Homo sapiens: one gene and its partner. The protein of the gene in region 2 interacts with the protein of the main gene of each other region in a pairwise test. Each region holds a gene or a part of one and is shown on either strand. Other genes may lie near its edges.

The links.
Region 1: the proteins of ERGIC3 (region 2) and CXorf66 interact in binary tests that used the Homo sapiens proteins (3 or more experiments, as listed by UniProt).

What each region holds. Positions count from the first base shown.
Region 1 is NC_000023.11:139,963,417-139,967,168, forward strand, and holds the start of CXorf66 (uncharacterized protein CXorf66 precursor), read right to left. Parts: upstream 2,106-3,752; 5' UTR 2,081-2,105; coding exon 1,993-2,080; intron 1-1,992.
Region 2 is NC_000020.11:35,555,025-35,558,205, reverse strand, and holds the end of ERGIC3 (endoplasmic reticulum-Golgi intermediate compartment protein 3), read right to left. Parts: intron 3,163-3,181; coding exon 3,131-3,162; intron 2,174-3,130; coding exon 2,077-2,173; intron 2,000-2,076; coding exon 1,935-1,999; intron 1,234-1,934; coding exon 1,097-1,233; intron 1,013-1,096; coding exon 957-1,012; intron 782-956; coding exon 702-781; 3' UTR 572-701; downstream 1-571. UniProt on the Homo sapiens protein: Possible role in transport between endoplasmic reticulum and Golgi. Positively regulates trafficking of the secretory proteins SERPINA1/alpha1-antitrypsin and HP/haptoglobin.

The DNA.
Region 1 (3,752 bases), on a different chromosome or scaffold from region 2:
ACAAACAAATGGAAAAACATTCCATGCTCATGGATAGGAAGAATCAATATCGTGAAAATGGCCATACTGCCTGAAGTAATTTATAGATTCAATGCTATTCCCATCAAGCTACCACTGACTTTCTTCACAGAATTAGAAAAAACTACTTTAAATCTCATATGGAACCAAAAAAGAGTCTGTATAGCAAAGACAATCCTAAGCAAAAAGAACAAAGCTGGAGGCATCACTCTACCTTACTTCAAACTATACTACAAGGCTACAGTAACCAAAACAGTATGGTGCTGGTACCAAAACAGATACATAGACCAAAGGAACAAAACAGAGGCCTCAGAAATGACACCACACATTTAAAGCCATCTGATCTTTGACAAACCTGACAAAAACAAGTAATGGGGAAAGGATTCCCTATTTAATAAACGGTGCTGACAAAACTGGCTAGCCATGTGCAGAAAACAGAAACTGGATCCCTTTTTTACACCTTATTCAAAAATTAACTCAAGATGGATTAAAGACTTCAATGTAAAACCTAAAACCATAAAAACCCTAGAAGAAAACCTAGGCAATACCATTCAGGACATAGGCATGGGCAAAGGCTTCATGACTAAAACACCAAAAGCAATGGCAACAAAAGCCAAAATTGACAAATGGAATCTAATTAAACTAAAGAGCTTCTGCACAGCAAAAGAAACTATCATCAGAGTAAACACGCAACCTACAGAATGGGAGAAAATTTTTACAATCTATCCATCTGAGAAAGGGCTAATATCCAGAATCTATAAGGAACTTAAACAAATTTACAAGAAAAAACAAACACCCCCATCAAAAAGTTGGCGAAGGATACGAACAGACACTTCTCAAAAGAAGACATTTATGTGGTCAACAAACATATGAAAAAAAGCTCATCATCACTGGTCATTAGAGAAATGCAAATCAAAACCACAATGAGATACCATCTCATGCCAGTTAAAATGGTGATCATTAAAAAGTCTGGAAACAACAGATGCTGATGAGGGGAGGAGAAATAGGAACGCTTTTACACTGTTGGTTGGAGTGTAAATTAGTTCAACCACTGTGGAAGACAGTGTGGCAATCCCTCAAGGATCTAGAACCAGAAATACCATTTGACCCAGCAATCCCATTACTGGATATATACCCAAAGGATTATAAATCATTCTACTGTAAAGACGCATACACACGTATGTTTATTGCAGCACTATTTACAATAGCAAAGACCTGGAACCAACCCAAATGCCCATCAATGATAGACTGGTTTAAGAAAATGTGGCACATATACACCATGGAATACTATGCAGCCATAAAAAAGAATGAGTTCATGTCCTGTGCAGGGACATGGGTAAAGCTGGAAACCATCATTCTCAGCAAACTAACAGAGGAACAGAAAACCAAACACTTCATTTTCTCACTCATAAGTGGGAGTTGAACAATGAGAACACATGGACACAGGGAGAGGAACATCACACACTGGGGCCTGTTGTGGGGGTTGGGGGCAAGGGGAGGGAGAGGATTAGGACAAATACCTAATGCATGTGGGGCTTAAAACCTAGATAATGGGTTGACAGGTGCAGCAAACCACCATGGCACATGTATACCTATGTAACAAACCTGCACGTTCTGCACATGTATCCCAGAACTTGAAGTAAAAAAAACAAAAAACAAAAATAAACCCCTACTGTATGTTAAGTCCCTTGCCAGATTCATTTATATAGTATTAGCTAGTTTGGTGGGGACAGGTTGGTATATTGAGTGGGGAAGGGTGGTAAAGGAGGACCATAAGTCTGTCATCTTGATGCTTATATTTTGCTTAAGTTTTTTAATATCAGCTGTTGTATTAGAAATTCTTGAAGACCTACTAATGTTAACACTGCTAAAAGTAACAGCAGATTTCTTAAATACAGCTGGCGTTTCTAATTAAATACTTTAATGTATACTGTAACAGATCATAATTTACAAGTTTTAAGGTTAGGCACCTACCTGTAGTAGAAGATCCATTGGTTTGGTTTGTAGTCATGCAATTATTTTTCCAAATGGACAAAAGTAGGACACAAATAACAAGATTCATGTCCGCAACTTGGTTCAAATGATTTGTCTACTAAGGTAACTACTGAATTTATACAGTTCAGAGTGTTCTAGGCATTTATGACATCATTACCATTGTGTGTCATACTCTGACAACATAATCTCACCATAGGGAAGCATAAGCTTCTGTATACAAATTTTACCAAATGACTTTTTTTTTTTTTTTTTTTTTTGAGACGGAGTTTGGCTCAGGCTGGAGTGCAATGGCATCATCTTGGCTCTCTGCAACCTCCACCTCCCGGGTTCAAGGCACGGTGGCTCACAGCTGTAATCCCAGCACTTTCGGAGGCGGAGGTGGGCGGATCACTTGAGGTCAGGAGTTCAAGACCAGCCTGGCCAACACGGTAAAACCCTGTCTCTATTAAAATGCAAAAATAGCTGGGCATGGTGGTGGGCACCTGTAATCCCAGCCACTTGGGAGGCTGAGGCAGGAGAATCACTTAAACCTGGGAGGTGGAGGTTGCAGTGAGCCGAGATTGCGCCACTGCACTCCAGCCTGGGCGACAGAGCAAGACTCTGTCTCAAAAAAAATAAAATAAAGAGTAAAAAAGAAATGAAAGAACATGTCCTATAAAGGTGACAGTGTTTGAAATTATGCATTTGGGGCCATTGGAATATAATAAAATTAAACATTAATTGGAAAACCCCCAGCCTGGCCAATATTGTGAAACCCCCTCTCTACCATAAAAAAAAAAATACAAAAATTAGCCGGGCGTAGTGGCAGGCACCTGTAATCCCAGCTACTCAGGAGGCTAACACAAGACAATCACTTGAACCCAGGAGGCAGAGGTTGCAGTGAGCCTAGATGGCGCCACTGCACTGCAGCCTGGGTGACAGAGCAAGACTCCATCTTAAAAAAAATAAAAAACCAAAAAAAAAAAAATACAACTCAGTTTTACCCTGAAGGTCTAAATAATCCTGCTCATACTTTTTAACTGTATAAAAATCAGAAAATGTTATTCTATTGCTTTTGAATAAGCTGCTTTTGAAAATTTGAATAGGGCTTATAAAGTGAAAGAATGTATCTGTCACCTTTTTTAAAAAAAGAAATCAGGTTTTTTTTTTTCCCTAGTGTTGGATACATGGTAGACAAATATCTTAAAGCCAGTATTTCAGAAACAGCTTCCAAATTAATTTGAACATTAACTTCATATTCATAATGGTTACAAAAACACTTTACTTTCTTTGGCTTTAACATAGATTTATATGATTTTTATTTCATTTGCAAGTTTACATGACTAGCATGTTAGTAATAATAGATTTCACTCAGAAATTCTAGGTATTATTTTGATAAAAATTGTATATAATAAGTACACTATAAAACCCCATTTCTTGCTTCATATTTGTTGTTGTTATTGTTTTGATTGTTGCCAGGACTAGAGTAAAACCCAGTGAGATATTTGCCTGTAGCACAAAATTTAAGGGGTGTTGCAAAATTCAGTAATCAAATAAGATTTTAACGTGATATTTAAAAACCAAAATTAATGCCAAAAATCTATGACCAACAAAATATTGAACATTTAAATAAAGACAGGATCTGATTCTGCATTTGCATGAGCCTGTCCCACTCCCCTCACCCTAATCCCAGCTCTGTATCTTGAGCCTGCAGGGCCATATTTATTCTTTTCCACTTTAAAAAGCAGAGGGGAAGGGTC
Region 2 (3,181 bases):
GCCAGGGGTCTGGTGCTGGCCCTGCTCCAGAATGGCCACTGACTGCTACTTTCGCACCTCAGTGTTCAGTTTTGCTTCCATCTAGACTGCAGAGGACCTGGAGGGATTCCTCTCTGCAGTGAGAGCCAGCGTGGGGTTTGGCACAGAGTGGGATCAGTGAGTGTGACAGGATCAGGTGTATTGAGCCCAGGGTGGCGGAGAGCGGCCCCAGCTTTACCCATCAATGAAGAAGTGGCAAGCCCCAATATGCACTCAGGGCCCTGAATTAGTGGCCTGGGGTTGATCACTCATGAGCCTGGGGGCCATGGTGGCTCCAGGAAGCTCACGCTGAAAAGGTCCATCTGAGCCCTGGGGCTGAACCCGAGAGGCCTGAGGACCACAGTGGAGGAGGGACCCAGGACAGGGCTGTGGGCTGGACATGAACCTGGTTTGAATAAACCCCGGTTAACTAGGGGATGCCCATGTGGGGCTCCCGAGGGCTCTGGGCCCCGATCTGTCAGTCACAATTGCCTTCAATGAGTGGCCAGGATGAGGCTCTGGCCATGGCAAGGATCACACGGAGACCAGTGAGTACTATCACAATCAATCAATAGATTTATCAACCTGGGGCTGGGGCTGACCGAGGAGGTGGAGGGTGGCAGAGGCTGGGGGACAACCACAGGCCAGGGAGAAAGAGGAGACAGAGGAAGCACCGAGGGTGACTACGTTGTCTTCCCTAGATCAATTTTCTTCTGGATGGCTCGTGCTGAGTGGTAGATGAGCGAATCGATGAGTCCAGCCACTGGGAGAGAGACAAGGGCTGGCACTGGCCCAGTGGGGGCCTTGGCTTTTGACGCTGAGAGCCTTGTCACTTAACTGGCCAGGCCAGCATCTGCCCCTTCACCCCCAACCAAACCTGGGGCACCCAGGCTTTACCCTCCCCACCCCACAGCTCACAGACGCCCTGGGCCTCTTACCTGTGAACATGCCCCCAATGATGGCGCACACACCTGTCAGGAAGTGGGTGAAGGACCTGGTAGAAGGAGAGGGTGGGCTCAGCAGGCATCCTCCTCCCTCAGGCCCAGGCCCCCAGAGGCCGCTTTGCCCCCATCCTCACCTGTGCTTCTCCGTCAGCTTCACCATCATGGGCGAGAGCTCATAGAGGACGAAGACTCCGGGAAGGCCTTGGTCGCCCAACAGCCCATTGGCAACCTTCTCATGTCTGGTCACAGAGAACTGATTTGTCCTCAGTACCTGGGGTGGGAGGGGAGCCTGGGCCAGGGCTAGGGCTAGGACCTGGCTCCAGCCACCATCAGCCCCACCCCTGCTCCTTCCCCTTTCCTGTTGAGCCTTGGCCGTGTAAGGAGAGAACACAGCACCGTGCTAGTGGCCTGCACTGCAAGGCCTGGCCCGCCAGACCCCCTCTCCTAGTCTTGGCCTCAGCCTTCCCCTCCAGGTGCCAAGTCTTTACAGTTTACCTATCCTGGCAGCATTTGGTGGGTGTTCTCACGGGGGTCCAGGCTGAGAAGCAGCTCTCCAAAGACGCACCAAGGCTGACCTGACTTCCTCTGCCCTCAGCCCCTCGCATCCTGCCACTCTGCTGAGATGCTGCTCCACAGGCCAGGGCAGCCTTGGGAGCGGGTACACAGAGACTTGCCTTGCCTAACCCCCAGCCCAGGCAGACCACAGAGAACAGTGAGGCAGGCAGACGGTGGGCACCGGAGGAACGGATAGAAGCGGTGAGGGCAGCAGAAAGAGCAGGCGCTTTAAATCTAACAGCCCCAGGCCTGCACTCTGCCTGGGAGGGCAAATCCCCCACCCTCTCTGTGCCTCAGTCTTTTATTCGCCATGTGAGGACGAGGCAGCTTTCACTCCCCAGGCTGACGGAACGAAATGCAGGAACTCCAGTGCTTGGCACCGCGCAGGAGACTCTGGTAGGGAGCTCCCTGACTCACCTCTCCGTCCACCTTCATGTACACAGTGGGCACCACCTTCACAAAGTACTGGAACATCATGGAGGCTGAGGGGAAAACAAAGCACTGGGTATGGGTGCCCGGCCGGCCTTCTGCGGCTGGGGGCTGCCTCCCGGGCTGGTACCTTGGGGCGCAGTGACATTGGTGTGGTCCAGGGGGTTCACAATGCCTGGATAGTCCTCCCCAAATGACAGGTGCTGGATGTAGTGGGTCATGTTGATCTGTAAACAACACCATCCAGAGCTCATCCAAAGCTCTGATGACAGTAGCAGACAGGGACACCTGGGTCCGTCTGCGGAGATGTGGGAGGAAGGGGAGGCTATGGTCCTAAGGGGACAACCTCCCCGAGATAAGAATCCCCCATTCCCTGCCTAGAAACTCCTCCTTCCACAGCCTGCAAACTCCTGGGGTTCCAGATTTTTCTTTTTTTTTTTTTTTTTTGAGACAAGGTCTCACTCTGTTGCCCAGGCTGGAGAGCAGTGGCATGATCTTGGCTCACTGCAGCCTCGCCTTATTCAAGCGATTCTCTTGCCTCAGCCTCCTGAGTAGCTGGGATTACAAGCATGAGCCACCATGCCTGGCCAGGTTCCAGATTTCTTAAAATACCAGCTTCACTTGTACGTTAGGCACACAGAGTAGCAGGTGCTGGCTTTGCCTGGAGGCCTAGGCTGGAGGCTGTGAACCCCCAGATACACTCCCTTCCTGCTCCCTTGTGTATCAGCCTCAGACACTAGAAGGATCTTTCCTAAAATGCAAATCTGATTATGTCGTGATCCTGCTTAAAGAAGGCCAACAGCTTTCCACTGTTCTCATGAGAAAGATGTGATTCCTCAGCGTGGCCTCTGAGTCCGGTGTGGTCTGGTCCCTGCCGACTTCTCCAGCCTCACCCATCCACACCTGCCCCGCAGTTCCTTAGAAGGGCCATGCTCCCGCCTGACCTTGCGCTGAGGCTCTGTCTGTCTAGGATGCTCTTATCCAACCCCAATCTTGCCCCTAGCCTGCTCAGAGTTCAGTTCAAAAGTCACTCTCGCTTAACCCTCAGGCTGGATCCCCATTCAGAACGTGGTGTATTTTTCCATATGCACTACCCCATCCCAGGATGTTCCTACAAGGAAATGAAGGCAGCAACCAAGCCTCCCACCCCCACCTGCCCTCCATGGTTTCCATCTGGTACGTACGTTGTCAAGGCCAAAGCTCTGCAAGTCATGGACTAGGAGAGAAGGGAGAAG